Linked DNA regions of Homo sapiens: regions 1 and 3 are each reported to be linked to region 2. Evidence: microRNA targets listed by miRTarBase, many of them from high-throughput screens and not tested one by one. Region 2 holds a microRNA gene; each other region holds the end of a gene's coding sequence.

Evidence for each region. Region 2 holds the annotated microRNA hsa-miR-1282 (UCGUUUGCCUUUUUCUGCUU, at 2,857-2,876, shown strand). A microRNA usually pairs through its seed, bases 2 to 8, with sites in the 3' UTR of a target mRNA and lowers its output. Matches are read on the target gene's strand: a 7mer-m8 pairs with bases 2 to 8, a 7mer-A1 pairs with bases 2 to 7 and ends in A, and an 8mer does both.
Region 1: the mRNA of AP1S3 is a reported target of hsa-miR-1282. Seed matches in the 3' UTR shown: 7mer-A1 at 1,335-1,341.
Region 3: the mRNA of ANKRD40 is a reported target of hsa-miR-1282. Seed matches in the 3' UTR shown: 7mer-A1 at 2,353-2,359.

The regions. Positions count from the first base shown.
Region 1 is chr2:223,754,916-223,759,076 of GRCh38, forward strand. AP1S3 (adaptor related protein complex 1 subunit sigma 3) reads right to left here. Exons shown (of 5, transcript NM_001039569.2): 5 at 411-3,835. The coding sequence ends at 3,800. Among named protein-coding and RNA genes, the nearest start is that of AP1S3, 81 kb to the right of the region's middle.
Region 2 is chr15:43,792,447-43,796,607 of GRCh38, reverse strand. MIR1282 (microRNA 1282) reads left to right here and starts at 2,849; the gene lies at 2,849-2,949. It overlaps SERF2 (small EDRK-rich factor 2), which reads right to left. Exons shown (of 3, transcript NM_001018108.4): 2 at 3,525-3,633; 3 at 529-2,898. The coding sequence ends at 2,835. It overlaps SERINC4 (serine incorporator 4), which reads left to right. Exons shown (of 12, transcript NM_001258031.2): 9 at 381-453; 10 at 872-920; 11 at 1,067-1,220; 12 at 1,395-2,446. The coding sequence ends at 1,608. It overlaps SERF2-C15ORF63 (SERF2-C15orf63 readthrough), which reads right to left. Exons shown (of 6, transcript NR_037673.1): 2 at 3,525-3,633. RefSeq lists enhancers at 564-1,063, 1,064-1,565, 2,287-3,140, 3,476-3,805, 3,594-4,161.
Region 3 is chr17:50,692,241-50,696,401 of GRCh38, reverse strand. ANKRD40 (ankyrin repeat domain 40) reads left to right here. Exons shown (of 5, transcript NM_052855.4): 5 at 259-3,204. The coding sequence ends at 405. ABCC3 (ATP binding cassette subfamily C member 3) reads right to left here. Exons shown (of 31, transcript NM_003786.4): 31 at 4,149-4,161. Among named protein-coding and RNA genes, the nearest start is that of ANKRD40, 14 kb to the left of the region's middle.

The sequences.
Region 1 (4,161 bases), not on the chromosome of region 2:
TTAGAACAATACATTTGACTAAAGCTTTATCATTATTTTAGGAGGTTTGATATGGAAAAAAAAGTTTGAATCAAAAATCCATTTGCTTTATCACAAAAATTGTCAACTTTACATTTGTTAATGAAAGAAAAGGAGCTGTCACTAGATTTAAAAAATGATCACATCATTAATTACGTGTAAAGAGATCAGATTACCAAAATGTAGGTGAATGATGAGAAAAGTCAGTAGGAGCAAAAGCAATAAATACTCTTCTCCCATTTGCTACCACTTACTTTTGAAGTTGCTTCTTGTTGGTAGGTACCAAGAAAATAAAGAGGTCATATTAAAGAGACATCACCAGGAATTATGAGTAGCAATTTCAAACATAAAATCTGACTTAAAAAAAAGTGTATTCATGAAAACACACCAAGTTCCTCATTAAAACATGTTAAAACATTTTATTTTGGAAGTTTTATAGAAATTTAACATTTACTGTCTTTCTCTTGGTAGTTTTATAGTAATTATATAATATAAAGAAAACACAATGACTATTTTAGCCTAGGCCCATGGAAGATGTCCCTAAAATCCCTCAAATTTACCCCACTGTGCCATATAGATATGTTTACTTACTTTCATTTTTTTTTTTTTTTTTTTGAGACAGGGTCTCACTCTGTCACCCGGGCTGGAGTACAGTGGCGTGATCTCAGCTCACTGCAACCTCTGCCTCCCGGGTTCAAGCGATTCTCCTGCCTCAGCCTCCTGAGTAGCTGGCACTACAAGCATGTGCCACCACACTTGGCTAATTTTTGAATTTTTAGTAGAGACAGGGTTTCACCATGTTGGCCAGGCTGGTCTCGAACTCCTGACCTCAGGTGATCTGCCGCCTTGACCTCCCAAAGTGCTGGGATTACAGGCGTGAGCCACCTTGCCCAGAAGAGATATATTTACTTTCTATGTGTGACACTGATTGAAGTCTGAGAAGCCCTGTCCATAACTAAAGTGTCTAATATGGAATTATCCAGAACATGTGTAGTATATTTGAATGAGGTTCAAGAGATACCTTTATCCAAATATGGTGACAAATTTCAAAAGAACCGGAAAAACTATGATGGATTTACATGAGGTCCATCTTTACAAAATTGTATTGAAAAATAAAGAATTTGGCCGGGTGCAGCGGCTCATGCCTGTAATTCCAGCACTTTGGAAGGCCAAGGCGGGCGGATCACCTGAGGTCGGCGTTCAAGACCAGCCTGACCAACATGGAGAAATCCCAACTCTACCAAAAATACAAAATTAGCCAGGCGTGGTGGCGCATGCCTATAATCCCAGCTACTCGGGAGGCTGAGGCAGGAGAATCGTTTGAACCCAGGAGACGGAGGCTGCAGTGACCTGAGATCACACCATTGCACTCTGGCCTGGGTGACAAGAAGCGAGGAAAGAAAAGAAAGAAAAGAAAAGAAAAGAGAAAAAGAAAGAAAGAAAGGAGGGAGGGAGGAAGGGAAGGAAGGAAGGGAGGGAAGGAGAGAGAGAGAAGAAGGAAGGAAGAAAGGAAGGAAAAGAAAGAAAGAAAGAAAAGAAAGAAAGAAAGAAAAAAAGAAAGAAAAAATTCTAACACATTAAAAAGTTAAACCACAAAACTGAAGGTTAGCTAAAGTAAACACAGTGGTCAATCATACATGATAAACTTCAAGCTGATGCCATAATTGTAATTACATGGTAACCTGAAGAAATATTGGATAGTAAAAGCCTAATGATTATTTTATATGCTAATCTGAGTTATTTCCTTTGAACAATGGTTATATTGAGGAATTGGTGAATTTTTCCCTTTGTTCTCCTGCTTGCTTTGCTGTTTTCCCTAAATATGTCTGCTGAGATGAACTAAAGAGAACATTTTTCCATCGAGTTCTCTAAAAATCTACCAGATGGGATCTCCTAAAGAATCCAACAGGAAACACACTCTTCTAGGAAATCACTGGAGGTCCCAAACCACTCTAATATGAATGATACCAGACCTCAAAGCTAACATTGAAAATGCACAGGTAAAACATCAAATAGCAGGCAGCAAGACAGAATACTACAAGCTTTTACTTTTTCTTTTTTTTTTTTTTTTTCTTGAGACGCAGTCTTGCTCTGTCACCCGCCTGGAGTGCACTGGTATGACCTTGGCTCACTGCAACCTCTGCCTCCTGGGTTCAAGCCATTCCCCTGCCTCAGCCCCCTGAGTAGCTGGGATTACAGGCACCTGCCACCATGCCCGGCTAATTTTTTTGTTTGTTTGAGACGAAGTCTCGCTCTGTCGCCCAGGCTGGAGTGCAGTGGCACAATCTCAGCTCACTGCAACTTCTGCCTCCCAGGTTCAAGCGATTCTCCTGCCTCAGCCTCCCAAGTAGCTGGGACTACAGGCACGCACCACCACTCCCGGCTAATTTTTGTATTTTTAATAGAGGTGGGGTTTCACCTTGTTGGCGAGGATGGTCTTGATCTCTTGACCTTGTGATCCGCCCACCTCTGCCTCCCAAAGTGCTGGAATTATAGGCATGAGCCACTGTACCCGGCCTAATTTTTGTATTTTTAGTAGAGATGGGGTTTCATCATATTGGCCAGGCTGCTCTCGAACTCCTGACCTCAAGTGATCCACCTGCCTCGGCCTCCCAAAGTGCTGGGATTACAGGTGTAAGCCACCACTCCCGGCCTACAAGCTATTTCCCTGTAATATGTCTGATCACTGTTAGGACCTGGTTATACAGAATTTTCATTCCAGGAAGCACAAATGTGATATACTTACAGTAATAATGGTCAGCAGCAAATCTTTTCTTTGGGGAGGAAAGGGTAAGAAAAGAAAAAAGAAGGAAAGGAATCTACCATATAGGCTGTGATAATCTTAAATGCTCTAAGTAAGCCATGTAATAAGTCTTCAAATGCATTAGAGATACATTAAAACATATTTGAAATGAAATTTCCAGCATCTAAGAGTGCTTGGAACGTGAATTTTAAAAAATAGTAGCAATAATTATTATTGCTATTAATTCTTATCATACTATTTTAGAATAATAAAGGAAGTCATAGATGCTGTATCTCTAGGTCTCTATAAACCTTAATAAATATATAGTTCATAGAAAACCTTATTGGAATGTCCCTTATATTCAATTAAAAGATAAATTAAAACCTCAGTCAAGATAGCAGCTTCTAAGGCATCAAAAACACTTATTAAGTTCTATACTCTTTGGTTATTTTCATAATCCCAATTCTAAAAAAAATAAATGAATTCAGCACATTAAAATCAGACATTTTGTATGTGAATTGCAGTTACAGTACTATTAAGTGTATGAAAAATGTCTAGCATTACATATAAACTCTGCACTATTAACATAATTTTGAATTATTATACAATTTAGAAAACTAAACATTTAGAAAAAGTATTAATGACATCATATATACTTTACATTCAAAATCATGGATTATTACAATATTGTGTCAAATGCAAAAAAAATTGCAGCTAATGTATCTAAACCAGCTTAAAAACATAACATGGAGTTAATACATTACAAATATTGTCTGTTGGGTTAGGTGGTAGTTACTTTAAACATTTAGAGCTACAAGTACCTATACAGTATAACACAGACACATAATTTTTTTTAATAATACAGACACATAGTAATTATAAATATGTTAAACAACTTTAACTTTGTTAGTTAACAAAGAATCCCTTTAAATTATTTTTGGCATGGTGCCTGAGGCTCCATCAAAAAACCGGATGGGAGGCGTTGCTTATTTACAGCTTCATAACATGTAGTGCTGGAGTCTTCAAGTAGATTTCCAGTTAAAATGTAGGCTTGTTCATGTATTCTTCCATTGTCTGAAAGCGAACAATAAATTAGAACAATTTTCCCTTTAAGTCACAGCCTTCCGCAGACTGTGAAATCTTCTGCATTCTTTTATTTATTTGCCATTGTTGAAAACAAGTTGTCAAAAGGATACATGGATATAAAATCTTTGCATTCTAATCAAAGTTTGAGTATAATTTGTATACACATCCATATGGGGCTGGAATTAAGTAACTTTCAACTGAGAAAAAGTTAAGCTTGATCATAAAGTGAATGTCTGATAAGAGAAATGCTTGGCCAGTGTGGTGCTCACGCCTGTAATACCAGCACTTTGGGAGGCTGAGGTGGGCAGATCACC
Region 2 (4,161 bases):
AGGTGTCAAGGGTGGAGGTATGAAAGGAGGGTGCCCAAGACAGGGAAGGATGGTCAGGACAATGTCTGGGACCATTATTTAAAGTTTAGAGCAAGACTAGAGTGAGAAAAGCTCCCCACAAACAGGGACAAATTCTAAGAATAGTACTTTGTCAGATGATCTGTATGAGATGAAGGGGGTGGGGGGAATGACTTGAGAATTTAAAATATGTCCAAAGACCTTAGGGCTCTCACATGAATAGAATTCTAAATCTTTGGTGGAAAAGGGCACAGGGAGTATGGTACCCTTTTGAGGATTACCAGTATGGACCAATTGGTAGTAAATGCCCCCAGATAATCCCTATTTAACTAAACCAGCTTAAGAACTCTATTCTTTCTCAGCAATGAGGCCTCCTACCTGGCTGAGGTATTTGGACCCCTGTGGATTGTCAAGGTTTACAGCTATGAGTTTCAGGTGAGGATAAAGAGCTCCATATCCCCAACACCCTCCCTCCCCCACACAAAGACACACACACATCCTACCAACCTCTACCCAGAATGCTCAGATTATAGCTGCTGTTACCTTTTATTGAGTACCCACAATGTGCTAGGCAACTGTGCTAGATACTTTTACATAATCTCATTTAATTTAACCCTCACAACAACCCTGTGAGGTAGGTATTTGCTCCATTTTACAAATGGAGAAATCGAGGCACAAAAGATTAAACATCTTACCAAAGTCTGCACAGCCACTTATATGCTGGAGCTAGAATTTGAACCCAGGTGTGCCTCCACTTTTTAATACTAGACCAATCTTTTCACGGGGGAAGTTTCCTAGATTAACACCCTCACATCTTTTAAGACCATTCCAAAACCTGCGTTCTGTTTTGCAGAAGCCCTCACTGTGTTTCTGCTGCCCTGAAACAGTGGAGGCAGACAAAGGTGAGTGCCAAGTGAGGAACCATAAGAAGTGGTAGATCTCTGTGGAGTGCCATAAGAACCCTCAAGAGCCTTAACAAAGGTAGTTGGGGGAGAGGGGAAGAGGTGTTTCAGCAGCTCTGCTCCCAGCAGCCATTTCCTCTCTCCAGGGCAAAGGGGTGGGGCTGCGAGGCCAGCTGACCAAGAAACCCCTCCAGCTCCTCCAGTCCAAGTCCAGCATCTTTCCTACAACTATTCTGCCTTCCACTTCGTCTTCTTCCTTGCCTCACTCTATGTCATGGTTACCCTTACCAACTGGTTCAGGTAAGATGGAGTGGGCCTTAGATACTCTCCTGAAGAGCTAGCTATTTTAAGGAAAGAGCAATTCAAGGCCATTCCAGACACACATGGGTCTGCCATTATATTTGGTGAGGAGGTAGAACAGGTCTAAAAGCTAAGGCCCTTCATATTCTCTAACCAGAGCCTTTGGTTACACAGCTATGAGGGAGCAGAACTGGAAAAGACCTTCATCAAGGGTAGCTGGGCCACCTTCTGGGTCAAGGTTGCCTCATGCTGGGCCTGCGTACTCCTCTATCTGGGGCTGTTACTGGCACCACTCTGTTGGCCCCCCACCCAGAAACCCCAGCCCCTTATCTTGAGGCGCCGCCGCCACCGCATCATATCCCCAGATAACAAATATCCTCCAGTCTAAGTCCTTTTCACAAACTGGGGTTCCCCTGACATTGTACTCCTAGAGTTGGCTCAAGGGGAGCTGTCCAGCCCAGCTCAATACCTCAAGGACACACAGGGAGTTATCTCCGTTTGGGCTGAAGTCAATACTATGAACTGGAAGAAGTGGTCAAACACAGTCTAATGTGCTGGGCAGAGTGTCTGACTCACTGGAGCTACTGTTACATCTGCATCCCAGCTCAAGAGCCTAACACCCAAATCAGCAGCTCAAAGAACCACCGCTGATCCCAGCAGACAGTGTGGCACCAGCCCTTTCCTGGCTCTTGGGCTGGAAGTGGGGGTGGGGAAAGACCAACAGGGACTGAAGACTCGGCTCTGCCCTTGGAGAAAGGAAAATAAGGAGTTCAGCCCTGGGCACACGGATATAAGAAGCCCAGAACCACAGAACAAACCAGGGCATAGAAGAAAGGAGCACAGAGGCTACCCCAGGTTTTAATCCTGATTTTGAGGTCAAGGGAAGCGGGAAGACAAAACCACCCTCATTCCATGAGGAATGACAGAAGAGAAAGTGAACGCTTGACAGCAGCTGACCACGGGAAGTCGGTGAGCAGCAGGATTTTTTGGCCAACTTTCAAGCAGACGAACAAACTGAGGAAGAATGAGGAAAAGAGGCATAAACACAGATCTTGCAGCATTCACTCTTAGGCCAACTCCATCCTAGAGATGGTGTTCAAGGGTGGGGAACAAAAATCACAGAAAAGAAGTCTCTATGGTTCTTAGAGGATTCCTCTACTGCATATCCGGAGTACTTGTTTGGTTGTCATTGTATAATAAAGGCTTCTTCTGTGATGTTTCACTTATTAAGTCTACATACCCACAATCTGAATCTAAAGAGTTCTCCCTTTTTTGGTGGGAAAGGGCAGTCATTCTTCCAACCCCATCCCCCCAAGTCCCCAGTCAAACCAGGCGCTCAAGGAATTACAAAGCTACTTTTAATACTTTGGGGTGAGCCCCACAGGAATAAAAAACACTGGGAAGGGGTAACCCCCTCACCCCCGGGAGTGGCCCAGGGGGAGAGAGGCTACCTGAGGGGAAGGAAGCACAAAAGGGACCCGCTGCAGACTCAGGGCAAAGGGAATGCCATCGGTGCTGGGACCTGTGAGCACTACAGGAGGAAACGCGAGCGTGGTGGGACTGGCTCCAGGCACACAGGCGAAGGGCAAGAGGGTTGGACACGAAGCCACAAAGCTACTTGGGTTCCTCCTTCTTCTCGTTTGCCTTTTTCTGCTTCTGCTGCATGATCTCCGAGTCCCTGGGGGTAGAGATGATGGGGCACTGGGAGGTACCAGAGGGCAAAAAGGACAAGATGCAGGGGGATGAAGGGCACAAAGGATAAGATGGAAGTGGATGGGACTAAGTTCAGCGTTTGGCTGCTGTACTCCCACCCTAGGAGAACAAGAGGAAGAGAGCTGAGGCTCAAAAGGCGACCAGTCTCCATCTGGCTGTTGCCCAAGGGGTCAGAAGTCTGGTGACACAGGCCCAAGGGTCTCTATTCTGTATTGAGGACCACACCCAGCAACACCAGTGAGGAGGTTGGGAGAAGGGAGGAGAACCGAACAGCAAGGAGGGCCAAAAGTACTGGGCTGCCGTAACCACAACTGTATTTGAAATGTGAAGCTCCCTGCCCTTGCCCTTAAGGTCAGACCCAGGGACGCTCAGAAATCAGACTGAGGGCAGGCGCCCGCCCCCGTCCTTTCCTGTAAGGCTGTGAGCTAACAATTTGGAGGGTGGGGAGGAAATAAAACCCTAGAGGAAGCAATGCACTCTGCTCCTCACGACTAGTCCACATTCAAGCCCTGAGGTAGCTCTCTTTCCTTCTATAACCCTTGGTCTAACCCAGGTCTCCACCGTCCCTTTCCCTCCCCTCCCTGGGGCTACCTCTGCTTGCGGGCGGCAGCAGAAAGCCCGTCATCTCGGCGCTTTCCCTTAACCGAGTCGCTCTGCTTTTTCATATTCTTCTGGCGGGCGAGCTCACGCTGGTTACCGCCTAAGGAAAGAAAATTAAAGGTGAGACGCGGGGGCCGCTCTGCCCACACACCGGCGACCCTTCTACCCCAGCGCGGCCAGCAGCAGGATCCAACACCACTTCAATCTCCGGGCCCCGACAACGGCCCATCGAGGCCCAGGCTGCTTGGGGTAGGGGGGAGTGGCGAATCTGCCACGGGCCAGGTCAAAATACGGACTAGAGAAGGGAGGTCCCAAGGGGCCAGCTGGAGGCGTGTTTTGGGGCGGCGTGGGGCCCAAACAGCTGGCAAGGTGTGTGTGGACGGTTTGGGTCTCCGTGGGGGATGGGCTGGCTTGTGGAGTGGGGGCTCTGGGCCTATCACAGGGGCGCTGGCCTTCTCCTTACACCGCGGAAGATCCGGGAGGGCCTATGCCTAACCCGGGAGGGTGGTCCCGTGAAGTAGCCGTGGGCAAAGGGCTCGATTTCCGGGCACCGAGTGTGAGGGTGGCCACAGAGCGCGCCCAGAGAAACGCCTTGCTAGGGAAGCTACGGAAGGTCAAAGCCGGCGCC
Region 3 (4,161 bases), not on the chromosome of region 2:
AACTGATCTGTGCATTGCCTCTCCCTTCGCAGTGTGTGCTCATGCTGTCGCAGCTGCTGAGCTGTTTTTAAGGACTTCCACTTTGCAACCCAATCATCCTGGGGCCTTAGTTGCACTATCACTGACTTAGCCTGCCACAGGGATTTTTTTTTTTCTTCTAGGTTTTGAAATAAGACAAGATACTGGTATCAATAGAGTGCACCAAACATATGGAGACAAGTGGCTCCTGTTAATCTGTTTAACATATTTTTGTTTTAGGACAAGGATGTTGCTCGACTCCAAGATTTCCAGGAGCTGGAACTGGTTCTGATGATAAGTGAAAATAATTTTCTGTTCAGAAATGCTGCATCCACACTGACTGAAAGGCCTTGCTATAACAGGAGAGCTTCAAAACTGACTTACTAATGCAGCAGGGACTTTTATCACTGAGTATTATGACAGTGTGCATCACCTCTGGGCCAAGGACAAGCCATTGATCTAAATGCCTCAGATGCCCGGGAGGGCCTCTGGTGCCACTGCATAGTATATACTAACATCATTCTGCCAAGGTAGGAAGCCCCTGACCCCCAAGCAGTGGTGCCACTCTTCCAAGCCTCTTGGTGCACAGTAAACCTATTGCTTGAAGCTTTGAACAGCTGAGAAGTGGTCTGGAGAGGCAGAAGCTGAAGGTTCTATATCCAGTGTGTTTTATGTCCAGAATGTAAGAGAGTTGTCTAAGCAGCAGCTGAGAGAGAGCGGAGCCTATTTCTAGCCACTCCTGTTGACAGTGCACCTGAAGGGCTGGGATGCGTTTTTCTTGGTGTTGCATGCTCACAACTCTGCTGACATTGGGAACTTATGAGAGAGGAAGACTCGGGAAAGCACAGATACTGGACAGATGGATTCTGGTGTGGGGAAAGCACAGATACTGGACAGATGGATTCTAGTGTGACTTGTGACTGTGAGGTTTCCTATAACATATTTATAAATGTTACTCAGGTTAAAAGTATTTAAGAATACAGTTAACTAATTGTAAATATGCTGTTAACCAAAAGAGCTTTCCCTCCCTCACTTTTTCCTTTGTAAACACTCATGACTGCTTCTCTGTCTCGAGTCATCTCTGCATTAACTCCCCTTCGTGGTCACTAGAGGGCTCTCTGATGCCTTCTAAAAGAACAACTGCTTTTTTACAATGCCCCCCACCCCCACCCCGCCCATAGAGACAGGGTCTCACTATGTGGCCCAGGCTGGTCTCAAACTTCTGGCCTTAAGTGATGCTCCTGTCCTTGGCCTCCCAAAGTGCTGGGATTACAGGTGTGAGCCACTGCACCCAGCCCACTTTTTTTTTACTCTGAAGTGATTCCAGTCATATGTGTGTGTAACTGCATCCTATGAGAAGAGCACAAATATTGCTGTTCCATGTTCTCCACTTTCATTTTCCACTACAAATGAAAAGCAATTTTTGAGACTGAATCTGTTGCTATTTTAAAGGTTATTGTGGGAAACTGAGCTAAAGGAGTTAGCATCTTTATTTTTGTATCAAAAATAAAGGTTATTTTGAAATTATTAGGATTTTTACACAATTCTGAAATCTGTTGCTTTTGTAAACAAATTGTTTGATCTTAGTGATCCCCCTACTACTACCACCAATTCACTTCACAAAGTCAGTTATGAGTCTACCAGACTTTGTTCTGAAAAATAGAAACAAAACACCTGATTAAGCTCTTGAGTATGGCATAGGAATTTTTTAGAAGAATGCATTCAAGGATTCTTTTCCTTTCCTTCAGTGTCATTAATGTTAAAAGAGCAGCCACTGTTTTGTTGAAACAAACAGCTTAACTTCAGAAATAAGAACTAGCACACTTAGACAAACAGGAGAGCAGGGGTTTGAAGCCAGCTGTCGAAGAGCATCCCTGCTGTCTTAAGAAGCTTTTTCCCCATAGTGCCTATAGTTTCCAAAGAAACTCAACTTCCTAACTGTGTTAACTTAATTTTATTAGAACACTACAGTTGAGTGAGAACGTGCAGAAGATGTCAACAGAAGAGAATGTTGTGCTAAGATAATGGCCTCCTGCTGCTGCCTAAATGCTGAAATGAGGTTGAGATGTTTTTCAAGGCTAACTTCATGGACTCACTCTGTTTAGTGACTTAATTGTATCCCACCAATTACTGCTGGTGACTTACTCACCCTTGTACAGTGTTTGCATAGCAGAGTGAAGGTTACTTATTACCCTCTTTCTCTCAAGTGCTTTAAAGAAGAAACCTCCCTGGTGTTTCTTTTCTTTTTTTTTTTGAGACGGAGTCTTGCTTTGTTGCCCAGGCTGAAGTGCAGTGGCATAATCTCAGCTCACTGAAACCTCTGCCTCCCGGGTTCAAACGATTCTCCTGCCTCAGCCTCCCAAGTAGCTGGGATTACAAGCATGTGCCACCATGCCCAGCTAATTTCTGTATTTTAGTAGAGACAAGGTTTCACCATGTTGGCCAGGCTGGTCTCGAACTCCTGGCCTCAAGTGATCCACCTGCCTTGGCCTCCCAAAGTGCTCCGATTACAGGTGTGAGCCACCCGGCCCAGCCCCTCCCTTGTGTTTCAACCAATCGGAAGTGAATTTAACTAGATGTAGTAACCTTTTTTTTCTTTACTTCTAAAACAGTTACAGTTTACTAATAAAGTTAAGTCTGGTTCTGTCCTAGAGGAAATAAATTCACTATTAATTCATGTCTTAAGTTACTTGGGTTAAAACACTTTCAGCCACCCAGATTAATTAAAGTGGAGCAGTGGAGCCCCTGGCTGGGAGATGGCCTCCAGAGGAGCAGCTGCAGGGCATGTTCTGGGCTTAGCGACAGAGGCAAGCAAGGGACTGGTGTCTCTGGTGAGAGGTGGGTTTGATGTATCTCTGTCCTATGCTGGTCTCTCTTCTCCTTTATAAAATCCTCTGTGGTCAACTGACTACTGCGTATCGCAGTGGAATAAGACTGCACAGTTGCTGGTAGGTGAGTTTAAAGTCTTAATCTATGCATTCAGAGAAATATTTTTATATGCTTTGTGTAATTTATAACAAGGATTTTTTTTTTAGCTTTGTTAACTGTGAATTCACCCCTCCTCCTCCACTGCATATTTAAAGCATGTGTTCACACTGTGTGTAAACATTCACTGAAGATTTTTTCTTTGTGCATTGCTGACTGTTCAAACATAACAAGTATTATTAAAATTAAATATTAACTGACCGATCCTATATGCCTTCATTTTGGCTTCCTAAACAGCACTACAGTTCTAATCATAGGGGGTTCAAATTGTTGGACAGTCCCAGAGACCAGAAGCTCTGCAGGAAAATTAGAAGGGCCCTCTCTCCACCTGAGCCTCCTCCACATCCCGTTCATACCCTGTCAGTAGCACCTGGGGACGGATATTTTGTGCGGCGTCTTTCCTTCCAGTTCACGCAGTCGGCTTCATTTCCCTGGAGTAGCTGAGCCAGTTAGATGGAGGTCATCCCCTATTAACCACATTTTTTGATTATCCTATTTACTTTACCCAACTGAGCCTCTCCTTTGAGTTGTCAGCACCTGTCAGGGCCTCAATGAGCTCAGAAGCAAAGTCCCAAGACAGGAGAGGAAACACAGCCTTACACTTCCAGATCTTTAGCTGATACTGATGCTGAATGAGTCTGCTTTTCTGTTGGTTCAGGCCAGCTAGCACCTCACAAAGCAGACGTCAAGCCAAATTGGCCTAATAAATCAGAGAGCATAGCAGAGACCTTTTCTTAGCACCAAGGAGAGGCAGGATAATTTGGGCATTTGTGCTTTCATACTTGCTTTATCACAAGGATGGAAGTCATCTTCCATATACTCATAAACATCCTGGGCAGAAACAGCCTGCCAAAAAAATGTGATTAACCTTTAACAAATGGTCCTGCAGCACAGGCTGACCCAGAGCATATAGAAAAAACCAGTCAAAGGATCCACCTCCATCCATATCTACTGCAAGCCATTTAGGGTTGGGGAGAAAACCACCATCACCCACAGCCACTCACATCATACCAAGACAAAGATAGAGGAAATGAGAGCGAGACAGAGGAGACCAGAACACTTAGGAACAAGGAGAAGAGATCCATTCCAAATAGAAGGCCGGTGCCAGCCAGGTGGACTCTGACCTGCAGAAAAGAAACTCTTTGTTGGCTTGCTCAA